2 separate regions of the Homo sapiens genome follow, and region 1 is linked to region 2. The links come from fine-mapping of genetic effects on plasma protein levels. A gene starts in region 2. The other region holds a variant in brackets. All regions are shown on one strand. Distances are between the middles of the regions.

Region 1 (8,000 bases), 35 kb before region 2:
AGCCCGGAGGCTGGTCTGCTAGTTCCGGGTGGAGTACGCAGCCCAGAGTGAGAACTTATGGTGCTTTTTCCAGGCTTGCCCATGACCCGATCAGCACACACTTCCTCCCTTCTGAGCCCATAAAAACCCCAGACTCAGTCAGACTCACACAGACGTTAGGACTACCAGCTGCAGGAAGGAGCTACCAAGTTTGGGCCTCCTTGACTCGTTGGGATGACCTGCCTGCAGCAGAAGGGAGCTACCCACTACAGGTCTCCTCTCTGCTGAGAGCTGGATACTCGTCAGGATGACCTGCCTGCAGAATGGAGCTACCCACTTTGGGTCCCCTGAGAGCTGTTCTGTCACTCAATGAAGCTCCTCACCACCTTGCTCACTCTCCAGCTGTCCATGTATCTCACTCTTCCTGAACATGGGACAAGAGCTTGGGACCCGCCAAATGGTGGGACTGAAAGAGCTATAACACAAACAGTGCTGAAGCACACCCCCAGCCCCCACCATTTGCAAAATTGCAGGTGATGAAAAGGAGAGAAGAGCTGCAGCCCTTTGGGGAGTCCAGACCTAGGGGCTCCCTGAGCCAGGACTGTGACACTCTCTTTGGGGCTCTGCAGTTCCTGGCATTTCCAAGCTTCCAGGCACCACGTTTCTTGGTGACTGCAGTGGAAGCCATTTGCAGTACGCCTGGTCCAGCTGCAGCCTCGCACAGAGCTAGTGCCTGTGCCAACGCCTAGAGCTGCCCATCCCGCCACAGCTGGCACACCTGGCTGTGTGCAGTGGCTGGACCCCATGCTTGCTCACACACCCCTTTCCTCTCTGCGCCTGGCTTGTGCTTGGAAGGCATGGGATCCAGGCCAGTAGCATAAGCTGAGTACAGTGTGCAGGGCCAAGTGGTGGAACAAGCCCAGCAGCCCGACCAAAACTCAGGCAAAGGTGCCACCAGCCACAGAGGTTTCCGGCTGGAAAAGCAACACCGTAAGGATCGTGTGACACTGGGATTACAGGCATGAGCCACTGCACCTGGCCAAATTCCCACTTTTATGTTAGCTTCTATTGGCTACTCATTACTTGGAACCAACTTCATGAAACATGCAAAAATGTGTACGTGTCTTTATATGCCTCTTCCTCAGGAGAAAGGGACTAGTGGTCAGAGAACAGTGAATCAAAAATAACAGATGAAGCTTAGCTTTGAGATAAATGTCACTGAAAACGCATTATAAAAACAATATTGCCTAATGCTTACATTCCCACAAGCCTCTAGGAAACATACACAAATTATACCTTTATCTTAAAATCAGTGCCTATTACATTGCTACTGTCATTCCCTTATGTCTCTTTGAACTGAGGTTGGATTTCACATGCTGCTGGAAAGTGCAAAGTACCAGGATAAGTATAGGGGCAACTACTGTATTCATTGAATAATCAACCACAGTCTAGCAGGCCCTTGAAAGAGCATGTGAAATGGACATAGCCTGCTCTCATAGAAGCTGTCCAGGGAGGAACTGGCACTAGACACAGAGTGCAAGCAAGGCCAGAGAAAGTAGTGGTTCCTCACACAGCAATACCTAGGGAGGCACTGAGCCCCAAATTAAGAGAATGAAACCAACTGATAGAAAGTTTCCTGTGGAGCAGCGGTTCTCACCGTAACCGTGCATCAGCACCAGCTGGAGAACTTGTTAAAACAGGTTGCTGGCCCCTGGGTGTGAAATAGGGACCGACAATTTACATTTCTAGCAAGTTCCCAGGTGATGCTTGTTCACCAGCCATACTTTGAGAACCACTACTCTAGAACTTGCCACTCAAACTGTGGTTTTTTGACTTGTAGTATCAATATCATCTGGAGCTTCTTAAAAATTAATACTAGAATTAAATCATTAAAAAGGAAATCTGGGGTGGGATGTGGTGGTCCACGCCTGTAATCCCAGCACTCTGAGAGGCTGAGGCAGGCGGATCACTTGAGGTCAGAAGTTCGAGACCAGCCTGGTCAACATGGTGAAACCCCGTCCCTACTAAAAATACAAAAATTAGCTGGGTGTGGTGGCATACACCTGTAATCCCATCTACTCAGGAGGCTGAGGCAGGAGAATCGCTTGAACCTGGGAGGCGGAGGTTGCAATCAGCCGAGATCATACCACTGCACTCCTAGGAAACAGAGCAAGACTTGTCTAAAAAAAAAAAAGAGAGAGAGAGAGAGAATGCTGGGTAATGAGCATGAGTTACTTTTAGGATTTGGTTGGTATGAAATGACCCTTCAAAATCTGGCTATGCTTGGCTGAACTGATCATAGCTGCTTTAAAGATGAACTCAAAAGATCCACTTAAGGTGCAGATGCCTGTGACTCCATCCCCACCCTGAAGAACCTACCAGTGCTCTTCACACCCTTTTTATTACAATAGCTGGACATGGCTAGCCCAAGATGGAGTTAACGTTATATGGTGAAGGTTAAACTCTCACCCTGTCATCTACTCCTGACCTTGCTAATTATCACAATGCCAAGTCTGTGACAAACATATCTTCTGTGTCTACCTCCCTCAGCCTTGCAGCTTCAGGTCAAATGAACCTGCCCCTCAAAGCATTCCCAAATATGACCAGTCTGTGATAATCTGTGAACATCCCGCAGTGTTTGCTGAAGGCCACACCCTGGAATTCTGTGCCATTCACGTGGCATCAAATCTCAGATCACTTTGAGTTACCTCTCTCCTACTATCTTCTTATATTATTCTTAAAATTTCCATTGCTCAATTTTCTTCTTCCTGCAACCAGACTAAAATCCCTTTGAAGCTTTGAGCTGCTTCATGTACCCACAGAGTCTAGAACAAAGTAGATATTCAGTAAACTCCTGTTGCTTTATTGGTTGATAATCTTAAAAAGATATATCAGGTGCTCTGAAGAAAGGCAAAAAATCCTCTTCCACTGTCCCTTAGAAATCAACTGTTAAAATGGTAATTTTGCCTGTTCTATAAGTCTCATACTGCAAATACAGTAAAAAATACTGGAGAGCTGTCAAAACATAAGCTAAAAAAAAAAAAACTTCTTGTTATTCTATACATTTCATTTTGCTAATCAAGAGAAAACTAGCTATATATAACTGGTTTTTAAAAACTGGCTTTTTCTGCCTTTTCCCCAGCTCAGGGAAGCTGCTCCTCCTGAGTTTATAAGAATGAGGAACAGTAAGGAAAGGTAAGGAAGGCAGGAAGTCACTGTGCTACCAAAAGGGTGTCCCTCGCAGACCTCTCCATCAGGTGGCAGAGGAGTGAGTTCCCGAGACCACTGTCTAAATGTGCCATTTCCCCCTACAAAACCAAAATCCAACCCCATTCCTTTTTCTAGGATGTTAGCTTTGGGAGTTCTTCGGAAGTCATCCAATCTAGACCTCATATTGAAAAAATGAGGAAACTGTGGCCCAGAGAGGTGATGTAACTTGGTACATCCACACTGAAAGCCAAGAACTCCAGCTCCCAGCCCAATCTTCTTTCAACTATGTCATGATTTTATTTCATTTCACTATTTCAGGGACAAAAAAAGGCATTTCAGAATGTTGCTTTGTTCCAGCCTACCTTCTACTTTAGTCATTCATTCAAAATTCAGTTATTGATCACTCATTACAGGCCAGGCACACAGTTCCCAGTGCTTATGACACAGCAGTGTACAGACAAAGATCCCTGCCCTATCCAGCTCGCACAGCAGGTTCCTTCTGCTGTGTAGTGGCTGGGAGAGGGGAAAAAGGAAGAAAAAATAACTGAGACATAGAGAGGAAAGGAGGGAAGTGATCTCTGTTCTATTTTTCTTTTCTAGTTTATGATTTTTCATATTTTTATATATATATTATATATTTCAAGTACTATAAAATCCACCCATTTAAACT[G/A]TACAGTTCAGTGGTTTTTAGTGTACTCACAAAGTTGTGCAGCCATCACCACAATCTAAGGTTTAGAACATTTTCAACACCCGCAAAAGAAAGCTCATGCCCATTAGGAATCACTCCCCATTCTCTCACCCACACCCAAACCCCAGGCAACCACTAATCTAACTTCCTGCCTCTATGGATTTGCCTATTCTGTATATTTCATATAAATAGAATCACAATATGTGACCTTTTGTGTCTGGCTTCTCTCTCAGTATAATGTTTTCAAGATCATTATGCTTTAGTATGTATCTATACTTGATTCTTTGTTCATTTGTTTTTGATGGAGACTCGTTGTTGTCGCCTCAGCTGGAGTGCAATGACATGATCTCGGCTCACTGCAACCTCCGTCTTCCAGGTTCCAGCAATTCTCCTGTCTCAGCCTCCTGAGTAGCTGGGATTATAGGCGCCTAGCACCACGTTCGGCTAATTTTTGTATTTTTCGTAGAGACGGGGTTTCACCATGTTGGCCAGGCTGGTCTCGAACTCCTGACCTCAGGTGATCCACCTGCCTCGGCCTCCCAAAGTGCTGGGATTACAGGCATGAGCCACCATGCCCAGCCACTTGATTTTTTTTTATTGTTAAGTAATATTCCATTGTAATCCACTCATTTATCTCATCATCTTAAAGTTTCTATCAAAAGGCACACATCATCTTTGGAAGGATTATGTTAAAAAATGCAAGGTTTAGGGAGAAATAAATCCTGTCCCCATTTCCAACCTTTTCTAGGAAGTTGTTTCAAAGAATCACCATGCAGTACCTGACCAGATCCATCCCCAGCAAGGCTTCTATCTCGGCAGCTGGCTCTCTGGTGTTGATGGCTTCATTGGCTATGCACACTCCATGTTCATTGGCTCCCATTTCTGCTCCCCAGAGCCAGGCGGGTCTGCTTATCATTATGGCATAGGTCCTTGGAACTTGGTCGATTGAAATGTAAGTGCACTGAAAAACAAACACAGGAAAGAAAGCGCCATCACCTGTCAGGTACCACCTCATTTCTGCCTGGGTACTTATACTGAACCATCATATTAGTTACAAACAGAGCCAAAAAATAAAAGGCCTTGGGAATACCCTGATTTTTAAGTCTTCACAATGCAGCTCAAAAGTCTCCATGGTGAGTTTCAGACTGTGTGGCTTATGCCAATCTATTCCTGGTGCTCACGTAATAGGGCAATCATCTTGAACCAGGTATTCAGCCAATCATCATCCTGAACATCCTAAGCCTGCCCATTTCAACAGGCACAGGCGGCTGCCAGCATTCACCAATATTGAACACAGCTATTTACGAGCCCTACCTTCAAAAGAAACTTCACCTAGAAGCCTAAGATAGAAAGCAGGTAAAAGGGAAGATCTTTGCCTAAAGAAAGCAGAACCCTGAGTCCCCCTGCAAGGACCCTTTGGGTTTCCTGAAACACAGTTTGATAACCTACATGGTTGCTCTAGTGGTAGAAAACAGAAAAGGATAATAACATTTGCATTTAACTACTGCATTACACTGTGGGATTTCCTGCCTGTCCCATTTGATCCTCACACTAAGACAGTGAGGTGGACACAGAAGGAAACAGTCCCATGGAGGTGCATCTCCAGCTGCTGTCAGAACTGCAGAACACACAACTTAGTGGTGCATCTTACCTTCTCCAGGCTGCAGTGGCTTTACCTGGAAAATGGGGGAGCTAATTTGAGTCAAACTATTTCTTCCCAAGTATTTTTAACCTCAGAACACCTTCTTCACACGAACTCTTACACAGAATCATAAGCACAATAAAATCAGTCAAAGTATGTCCAGGCAAAGGGAGGAAGAGGCCCGGGACCAGGATGTGGGTAACCCTCAGAGTCTCGCCCTCCTGTGCTTCCCTTTCCCCTCCCCACGTTGTGACCCACGGCAGAGGAACCTGCAACTAGCTTCCCCATGGGGGCCTCCTGACTCTGACATTCTACGAGCCTATGACACACCCTTTGTGTGGTGGACGCTGTATTGAATTCAAGTCTCTAAGTTACACAGTGCTCTGGAGCTCTCAAGGGAGAATTTTATCAGCTGCAGGAATCATTTACATTTTAAACGGGGCAGCTGAAAGCAACAGCAGCCTTAGATCTTTCTTTTTTTAACTCAAGACCCAGCTATATCGACTGAATGCAGCCCACAAAGCTATTCTGTATTGATTTCCCATAATCGCTAAACCTCAGGTAAGAGCTGAAACCCGTGTGACACACACACTCACTGGTCAGGTGACTTTGGGTCTGCACAATTCATGTTAAGGTGTTGCTCTGCACTGGGATAATGTCATTTTACTTGATAAATATTTGCAAACTGAAAACTAATTATATCCAGAGGTTTTCAAGAGACTCTTGAATTTTTCATGGCAAACTGACAATAAAATATACTCAAGATTTTCCCTCTATGCAGTTCCCAAAAGTTATTTATTTAAAAAAAAAATGATTCTTGTAGAGCACGAAGCTGGCCAGAGCAGTAATCAAACTCTGCTCCTCTGTGCTCTTCTAAATGGAATTGACGTTTACATCTTAACATTGCACTCTATGTCAAAAAGTAGTCCAGGCATTGACCAACACTTTCCAAAACCCCTGTCCGCACTGAGTGCCAGTGGCAACTTTTGTCTTGAAAACAATGAGTAAATAGGAAAAGAATCTCAGCTTCTTAAGCACAGATTTATCATACAGGTTTTTAAAAGGGCAGAAAAAAAGTAAAAATTAGGAAATGGTTTATTTGTCTTCAAATTCATTTTTACACACTCATTTCCATTTCCCCAATTATTTACAGAACACCAACTACATGCAAAGCATTTTGTGCTAAATGCTGCAAGCAGAAAATCAGTGAGGAGGCCCAGGCCCTGTCCTTTTGGCTGGGGAGGAAGGCAAAGGCGCGCACACAAATTCCTACGAGCCCAGGCCAGCTTCAGTGTCTCCCAGGCCTGCCTGCTTCATTCCTGAAGCATCGTGCCACTGCCTCCTGCTTTGCCCTTCTGATCCACCCAGCCCAGCTCTGCTTTTCCTCTTTGCCGTTCCATTCCATTTATCCCCTTCTGAAATACTACAGAACTGATGGACTTATTACATGTACTGTTTATGTATACTATCTCCCCCAGCTAGAGTGTAAGCCCCAAGAGGGAAGGGGGATATCTTTGTTATTTAGTTCACTGACATGCCCCAAGTCTGGTATATATCAGGCATCAATAAGCCTTTTGTTGGATCGGTGGCTGAATGGATGGCTGGAGAAATTACAAAGCTCTAAGGGAGCACAGAAGGTAAAAGTCCAAAGAAATGAGGAAACACATCCGCATGGTCCGCTAGAGGCTGTATCACGTGGGAGAAATCTGGGTTGACCTTAAAAAATGGGCCAGCCATCAAGGTACTCCAGACAGAGCTAAGGGCTTAAGAGAGGAAGGGGCATGTGAAGGGTCTCTATGGTCCAGAGAGGTCCCTGCTGTGCCATGTGGGGGAGCTGCCATGATGTCATTAAGGCACAGAACTACAAGGGCTTAATACAGATTGCCTGATTAAAAAAATGTTGACAATTGAATCAAAAAGACCAGATGGTCTTTGCAGGAGTTCAAAATATATGCAGCCAACTTGATGTTTTTCAGGCCAAACTCGGAATGGTGAGGAAGGAAGGGGATCCCCAAGTAGCCAGATGGGCCCAATCAGCCCTCCTAAGCACCAGACCGAAAGCCAGGCAGCCAGATCCCTTCACAGGCCCCGAGCCTGGAACACATGCCCCTTGCTGCATCTTTGTCACGGGCCACAGAGCACGGGCCTCATAAGGGCTCTTCTATGACAGCCATTCACACCTGCTCCATTATGTTTTAAATCTGGCTAATCACAACCAGGTGGGGTTGGGGAGGGGTAAACACACTTGTCTCATGTAGATAGACTGGCTACTTAAAATCCCACTTTGGGAGCAGATCTCACAAAATCAGGAACACTTACACAAAATTTAATTAGCTCAACTTGGTAAAGTCAGCCATCTAGAACATGAACTCCACAGCCACTTTTAAATATAAAATCCACCCACCTTTACAACTGCCACATTATTAATGAGCCAGAGAAGTGGGATTTGAGGAAGCAAAAGAGGTTTCTCTAGGTACAAAT
Region 2 (8,487 bases):
GTCTCATACTCAGCAGTCCCAGCCCACCACATACTCCTTCTCTCCCTTTACAGTTTCCCTGGTCACTCACTTCTTGTAGTCCCTTTTCCGTCCATCCTGTCCCCTTTTCAGTTTCTGTTTTAACTTCTCCTTACATACCCAGTTCTACAAACAGCATTATGAGCTCAGCCACCCTCCAGTTCCTGTTAAAAACCACTAGAAATATAATCCAAGGGCTGGGCGAGGTGGCTCATGCCTGTAATCCCAGCACTTTGGGAGGCCGAGGCGGGCAGATCACCTGAGGTCAGGAGTTCGAGACCAGCCCGACCAATATGGTGAAACCCTGTCTCTACTAAAAATACAAAAGTTAGCCGGGCTGTGGTGGCGCACGCCTGTAATCCCAGCTACTCAGGAGGTTGAGGCAGGAGAATCGCTTGAACCCTGGAGGCAGAGGTTGCAGTGAGCCGAGATCGTGCCACTGCACTCTAGCCTGGGTGACGGAGGGAGGCCCTGTCTCGAGAGAGAGCAAGACAGATGCGAACCATATTTGCAATTTTATATTTTCTAGTAGCCACATTTTTAAAAGTAAAGAGAAACTCATGGAATTATTTTTAGTAATATATTTTACCCAATATATCCAACATGTTACTTCAATATAAAATCAATATAAAATTATTAATGATATTTTAAATTCTTTCTTCATATTAAATTTTTGAAATTGTGTGTATATTTTACACTCAGCATATCTCAATACAAACTAGCTGCATTTCAAGTGCTCAATAGCCACATGAGGCTGGTGGCTACCAGATGAAACAGCACAGATCTAGACTCTAATGAAAACGGATTTAAAAAAAAATAACTTTTGTTTATCTGTATTCTTATTCTTCAACAGACACAAATTGCATGCATTTCTGTATTTTTACAACTTGCTATTTTAAATATCTTTGGCATATCTTCACATTCATCCTCTAATGCAAGTTAGTTTTCTAATTTTTTTAATTTTTTTTTTTTTTTTTTTTTTTTTGAGACGGAGTCTCGCTCTGTCGCCCAGGCTGGAGTGCAGTGGCACCATCTCGCCTCACTGCAACCTCCGCCTCCCGGGTTCAAGCGATTCTCCTGCCTCAGCCTCCCAAGTAGCTGGGACTACAGGCGCGTGCCACCATGCCCGGCTAATTTTTTGTATTTTTAGTAGAGACGGGGTTTCACCGTGTTAGCCAGGATGGTCTCGATCTCCTGACCTCGTGATCCGCCCGCCTCGGCCTCCCAAAGTGCTGGGATTACAGGCGTGAGCCACCGCGCCCGGCTGCAAGTTAGTTTTCTAAATGGCACATGTCACATCAGCATCTGTCTTCACTTCGATATATATATTCATATTTAGCTCCTATCTGTTCCACTGCCTCAAGACATTCTCCCTGTTCCCTGCCTCCTGCCACCTTCTCCCTCTGCACATCACTGGCTGTGAAGGTTCAGATGCCCAGAAGAAACGTTTTCCACATCTTCACCACCTCTTCACACTAACCCATGCACAATTTCTAGCTCTGCTTTAGTAGATCTAAGGTCACTGACTCATGACTCAGAAAAGTCAAATGCAAATCATAGGAAAAGCCTGTCTTCACTGCTTCAAAGTTATGTTTACAATAGGCTTGTTATTTACTTTTACTTAAAATTAGAAACAGTCGAAAAAAATGAAATGCATGGCCTACTTTGGTTCCTTTTCAAAATAAACTGGCCTAATGGTTCTCCACAAACACAAGCAACTCAATTTTTAATCAAAAAATGTACTTCTTGCCTCAAAGACTTTACTAAAATAATGTTTTTGGTTCTTAACTATAGAAACAGTTTCACCACTGGAAAATGTGAACATGAGGTAGATACAGCTTAAGAAGTTAAAAGTCTTGAATTAGGAAATTAAGGTGTTGTCATTGACTTTAAACACCTATAGACTTTGTAATTCATATTACAGTTTGGCTTCCCATTGCTCGAAGTGTTTGCCTTCCTAATAATGACAGACTTGCTGTTCTCCCCCAGGCTCTAAAAGGTAGCATGTGGAACCCGGGGGAGTTATGAGACCTGGATTTGGGTTCTCACTGCCAGTTGACAGCCAGATATATGATCTTGGCGTCCATTCGCCCCGCTGGCCTCAGCCTTCCTGCTGTAAAAAGGGGGTTGACAGCAGGCTCCTTAAGACTGCCTCCACCTCTGCCCCCCGACCTTAGCTCATCCTCCTCTATTCCATTATCCCTGAAGCATTTGCCTCCTCATGTATCTCCTTCCCAAAAGACAAGATGGCTGGCAGCACGGAAGTGAAAAGGGAAAGAAAGGCTGTTTAAAAAAAAAAAATTCTAAAATGAGTCACCTTTCAAGAATTTCCCATTTCCTCATGCCTGGGTGCTTCCTCGTGTCGCTAAATCAGTTCTTCCAATGAAACTTGATCTAAGAACCTGGTATTTGTTATGTGCACTGCTCTTGGATGATGTTTACAATGTGCACACATCTCTTTTAAGAGCTTGTAGGTATCAAACGACCTCCAGGTTGTGCATCAAAAAGACATCAGCAGCCACAGAGTCAACTTTAGTTGAGCCTGGAGAAAATCATACAAAACCGTAGAGTTTTAACTAGGTTTTGTATCATCTTTTGATAAGTTAGGAAAAATAATTACAGCTCTCCAAACTTCCCACTTAACAACTCCCAGGACCCTGCAGCACCCTAAAATCTAGCCAGCTCCAAGAATCACTCTCTACTCCATACCCGGATGAGCCTTGACTCACACTAATTCCCTCCCTGAGGCTTAAGTCAGGGGGCAGCTGATGGTTGTGGTCTGTGCTGCTTCCGCCTGGCCTATTTTTCATGCTGCCATTTTGAATTAGCATAGGTTTCCTCCGCAACTGATGCATCTTCTAACCAGGCTGGGAACACAACACGCGCACACGCGCACACACACACGCACGCACCCACCCCACCCGGCTGCCGGACGCAAGCGTAAGTCAAGGACTTGCATGCTAGAATCAGACAGAAAATCCAGAAAAGCCACGTTATTTAACAGAACCCTACAAGGTCAGCTTTGAGTCAAAGCAGGTAACAGTTTCCTTCGATGTTTTCATGGACATTTTTATTCCCAAATCCGAGTTCTCGCCAATTCTCTAAAGTTCAAGCGCCCCTCCTGCTTTGCAGACCACATTTCTCTCGGCCCTCGCGAGTGAGGTCGCCAAATACTCGACGCCTCAAGAGCGAGCCGAGGAGGCAGAGGCCGACCAAGCCGGCCTCTCGGCAGCCCCGCCCGGCGCCCCGCGGAGAACGCCCGGGTGCGGCTCGAGGGAAGTTGTGTCAAGTCCCACGCGCGGCCCGCGGAGAACCCAGGGGCGGCCCGCGCGCGTCGGCCTAGCGGGGAGGGCTGCTCCGGGACACGGTGCGGCGGCCGCGGGCGAGTTGGACGCGCTGGCAGAGCCGGGCCGAAGGCGGCGGGCGTCTCCGGGCAGCCATGTTCGCGGCGCCCGCCCGCGCAGCAGGTACGGCACCTCGGGGAAGGTGCCCGGCTCGCCCCAGACCCCAGGGTGGCGAGGCCAGGGGCCCACAGGCACATCCCAGTGGGCAGCAGGTTGGCTGCCAGGAAAAGGAAACCCAGGAAGAGCAGCGCGGGGAACCCGGCTGCGGTGCGGGAGCCCGGGGCCGGCATCCCTCCACTGCACCCCCGCAGTCCCCGAGCCGAGTCACCCCGGCTTCAGGCCGAGGCCACCTCTCCTCTGACCGCCCCCAGGCTCCCAGCCCGCCCGGGCCAGCACCGGGAATCGGCCTGGGGTAACGCTACCCGCGGGTTCGGAGGGACAGCGGGAGGAGATGAAACGCAGGAGGTGGCGATGGCGGGTGGGGTGAAACCGCCGGGAAAGCAGCGCTGCAAACGCCCTGCGCTCCCAGACGCGGCTCACCTGGGGCGGCGGGCTCCGGGCTCCGCTCTCCGCTCTGCGGTGCTGAGGCTGCGGCCGCCGAGGGTGCGGGTGCTGCCGGGTCCGGATTACTGCGGCGACCTCGGGGGCTGCAGCTGCAGTGGCGGAGGCGGCCGCCGGGCGCTTCCCCCTACCCAGACTCCCGGCGCTGGGGCCCGCCGCCCCCCGCAGCAGCTGGCCCGACTCACGTGACCGCGGGCCCACCCTCCGCCTCCCCCACCCCGGCCCCCGGGGCCCCGCCGCACCCCGCGCGTCTGGCTGCACGGGCCGCGGCGCTGCTCACCGTCGAGTAGGGAGGGGGCCTGGGAGCTGGAGGAGCGGCCGAGAGGGCGTATCTCGCCGCAGAAAGTGGCCCCCTCTTTGCTAGATTTTTATTTCTTGGTTGTGGCTCTCAAAAGGGAAAACCCGGGCTTCAAGGAGCCAGGCCCAGCATCCTTTTGGCGCCTCTTCCCGACGTTTGGTTGCTACGTCCGGGCCTCGGCGCCCACACAAGATTTCCCCGGAGAGAAATGTGTCCTGTACCTTGTTGACTCGCACGTCCAAGTCGAGTCCCTGGTTTTAAAAGTGCCGTCCTGTACCATGTTGGTAAGCCAGACCCTGTCCCAGGTACTTGGACATTGTGGCCTAGAGAGGTTAAGTAACTTGCCCAAGGTCACACAGCACGTAACTAAGCCAAGATTCCATATCTGGGTTAATAAAGTTATGTACAGGGACTTGTGTGTTGTGTGTCTGTGTGTGTGTGTGTGTGTGTGTGTTGATGCCAGCGTCAACTCCATCTTTTATAAGTAAATAAGAAAAGACTATCTCAAAAGATATGAAGACGTAATTCAGAGGAAAATAAATGCAATTCTATCCTGGCACACGAAAAGATATTCAGGCTCACTTAACTGCAAATCAAATATGTGGGGTAGCATCTTCCACCAGCCAGATTAACAAAAATCAAAACATTTTGAGTCTTGCTTTGTCGCCCAGTCTGGAATGCAGTGGCAGGATCTCGGCTCACTGCAAACTCCGCCTCCTGCCTCCCGCCTCCCGCCTCCCGCCTCCCGGGTTCAAGCGATTCTCGTGCCTCAGCCTCCCAAGTGGCTGAGACTACAGACCCACGCCACCAGCCTCGCTAATTTTTTTTGATTTTTAGTAGAGATGGGGTTTCACCATGTTGCCCAGGCCGGTCTCAAACTCCTGAGCTTAGGCAATCCGCCTGCCTCTACTATCCAGCTTCCTTTAAAAAGGAGAATGATCTTTATTTGCTAATACAAAACTATTTCCAACCTATACTAACTAAAGAAAAATAAAAAGCTAGGTGCAGAACGTTGTGTGTGTTATTTGTGGGAAGAAAATATATATGTATGTCTGTACTTATTTTTGTAAATGCACAGAGTATCTTTGGAAGAGTACGTAAGAACCTGTAATAGATGCCACCAGGGAGCAGAACTGGGAGACTGGGTGCTGGGGAGAGAAGGAGACTTTTTTCCATGCCCTTTGAATGTTGAGCCTGTGCTTACAGTCTGACACATGAGTAAACGGATAGTGGGGAAGGGCTGAGGAAGTTGGTGTAGGTACTGCAGAATAGAGCATTGGTTCGTAGACTCTTGGAGCACAAAGGTACTTTACTGTTCTTTTAGTCTAGCCAAGAAAACTGTAGCCAATGAGTCTAAATAATCAATATTAGAAATTTCTAGCGGGCTTATTCCTGGGTTCCAGCCCAGATCTATGGAATTCAGAGTCTCTGGGGCTGGAGCCAGGGAACCCGCATTTTTCAAGCTCTTTAGTTGTTTCTCTTGCATGTTAAAGTCTGAAAGTCCGTGAGGTGTGGGTAGGGAGAGCATTAGGAAAAATAGGTAATGCATGCTGGGCTTAATACCTAAGTGATGGGTTGATAGGTGCAGCAAACCACCGTGGTACACGTTTACTTATATAACAAATCTGCACATCCTGCATATATACCCCAGAACTTAAAATAAATATTAAACTTTTTTTAAAAGTCTCAGAGTCGCTGTTTTATTTTTTGTTTGTTTTGAGATGGGATCTCGCTCTGTCACCCAGCCTCGAGGGAAGTGGCTCACTGCAGCCTCTACCTCCTAGGCTCAAGTGATCCTCCTACCTCAGCCTCCTGAGTAGATAGGACTACAAGCATGTGCCACCATGCCTAGCTACTTTTTAAAATATTTTTGTAGAAATGGAGTCTCACTATGTTGCCCAGGCTGGTTTCAAGCTCCTGGACTCAAATGATCCTCCTGCCTTAGCCATCTGAAGTGTTAAGATTACAGACGTGAGCCACCGTGCCCAGCCAGAGTCACTGTTTTAAATGTCTAGTTTAAGACTACACCACTACTAGAAAGGCAAATGCAATCCTGTGCCTTCCTATAGCCAGTATATGTCATTTGTTGTGTAAAGGATGGCACTTGCACCCTACGCTGCTCCCCTGGAGGCAGCCATATGCTCAGTACACGGATAGGGGATACTGCCAACCTGCCTGCCTGGCCTGAGATCTTTGAAGCCTGTTGGTTTGTCCCTACACAGCCACAGGAGCTTTGAGGCCAGGAGCCCAGGAACACATGGAGATTGAAAGACACCTGCTTTCCCCAGGGTCTGCATGGAGAAGCTTATTATATGGCACTATGAACGCTTATTAAACAGCAGCAATGACCGGGCATGGTGGCTCATGCCTGTAATCCCAGCACTTTGGGAGACCAAGGCGGGTGGATCACGAGGTCAGAAGATCAAGACCATCCTGGCCAACATGGTGAAACCCCGTCTCTACTGAAAATACAAAAATTAGCTGTGTGTGGTGGTGCGTGCCTATAATCCCAGCTACTTGGGAGGCTGAGGCAGGAGAATAGCTTGAACCAGGGAGTCAGAGGTTGCAGTGAGCCAAGATCGTGCCATTGCACTCCAGCCTGGGTGAGAGAGTGAGACTCCGTCTTAAAAAACAAAAACCAGCAGCAATACACTTATTTTGTCTCTGCTTTGTATCCAAAAGACAGTCCCTACTATTATTTGAGCTGCATAAATAGAGATAAGAGAACAGAACTGTCCAACAAATGTGGAGAACACCAAGAAATATCAGTAAGGGCTTTAATCATTGGCCTCTATCAATTATGTGAGGTTTAACTTTGAGTAAATTATAAGATTTCCATGAGCTAGCTTGCAAGGAAAAAAAATGTCTTAAATGACTTGCAACTGTTACACGGTCATTTATATTCCATCTAGTCATATTCAGAGACTTAAGAGCTAAAAAATACAAGTATAACAGATTTCCTTTTTTCTCTTCCGCCCTGAGAAGGACATGATCCCTACAGAGGTTACTCTCTGCAGCTGAGGCAGAAGGAGATTATAGCTAGAGGCTGTCTGCTAAACATGTCTGGAGGGTACACTCAGTGATGACCACAGATACTAATAGTGTTTTCAGTTTGGAACAATTATGAATAAAGCTGCTAATAATATTTATCTACAAGTTTTATGTAAGTGTAGGTTTTCATTTCTCTTGGGTAAACATTAGATTGGTGCAAAAGTAATTGCAGTTTTTGCCATTACTGTTTTAAAAATGGCAAAAACTGCAATCACTTTTGCACCAACCAACCTAATACTTAAGAGTGAAGTGGGTGAGTCATACGGCAGGTGTATATTTAAATTTATAAAAAGTTGCCAAACTGTATTCCAAAGTGGTTTTTACCATTTTACATTATATCAGAAATATATGAGAGTTCCAGTTGCTCCACATCCTTATCAACACTTGCTATTATCAATCTTCTAAATTTTATCGATTCTCACAAATGTGTACTGAAATCTCCTCGTGGTTTTAATTTATATTGCCTTTTTTTTTTTTTTTTTGAGACAGCATCTCACTCTGTCTCCAGGCTGGAGTGCAGTGGTACGATCTCGGCTCACTGCAACTTCTACCTCCCAGGTTCAAGCAATTCTCCTGCCTCATTCTCCTGAGTAGCTGAGACTACAGCTGCACACCACCATGCCTAGCTAATTTTTCTATCTTTAGTAGAGATGGGGTTTTACCATGTTGGCCAGGATGATCTTGATCTCTTGACCTCATGAGCCACCCGCCTCAGCCTCCCAAAGTGCTGGGATTATAGGCATGAACTACCATGTCCAGCCTATATTTCTTTGCTGATTAATAATGGTGAGCAACTTTTCCTATACTTGTTAGCCATTCATATATGTTCTTTTGGAAAGTGTTTAAGTCTTTTGCCTGTTAAAAAGTTTTATATTTTTAATTAGTATTATTATTACATGTTAAGAATTCCTTATATCTGGATACAAGTTCTTTATCATATTTATGTATTACAAATATATTCTTTCAGTATATGTCTCGCTTTTCATTAGTGGTGTCTTTTGAAGAGAAGATTTTAATTTTGTTATGCTCAATTTATCAATATTTTTTCTTTTATAGTTAATACTTTTTATGTCCTAAGAAATTTTGCCTACTCCAAGGTTGCAAAGATTTTCTTCTATGTTTACATCCAGAGATGTATAGTTTTTTAGCACTTATGTTAAGACCATGGTCCATTTCAAGTAAATTTTTGAATAAGTGGAGGTAAAATTCCAAGTT

Direction of the effects. Positions count from the first base shown, and alleles are read on the strand shown. Strength reflects both the effect of a copy and how common the allele is.
For the plasma level of the protein whose gene starts at base 4,062 in region 2, A is the low allele of the variant in region 1 and G is the other (weak association).

What was found. PIP is the chance, under the fine-mapping model, that this variant and not a neighbour inherited with it causes the effect. The UK Biobank Pharma Proteomics Project read protein levels with antibody pairs (Olink). The fine-mapping took linkage between variants from a reference panel, not from the people measured, so its PIPs are less certain.
Region 1: its variant is fine-mapped to the plasma level of the SCRN1 protein (UK Biobank, PIP 0.99).

Annotation. Positions count from the first base shown.
Region 1 is chr7:29,950,523-29,958,522 of GRCh38, forward strand. It overlaps SCRN1 (secernin 1), which reads right to left. Exons shown (of 8, transcript NM_014766.5): 3 at 4,657-4,838. Among named protein-coding and RNA genes, the nearest start is that of FKBP14-AS1, 34 kb to the right of the region's middle. The variant G/A (reference allele first, on the strand shown) is at 3,860.
Region 2 is chr7:29,985,740-29,994,226 of GRCh38, forward strand. It overlaps SCRN1 (secernin 1), which reads right to left and starts at 4,062. Exons shown (of 8, transcript NM_014766.5): 1 at 3,903-4,062. FKBP14-AS1 (FKBP14 antisense RNA 1) reads left to right here and starts at 2,917. Exons shown (of 3, transcript NR_187577.1): 1 at 2,917-3,054. RefSeq lists silencers at 3,289-3,408, 3,499-3,768, 3,779-3,828, 3,849-4,188.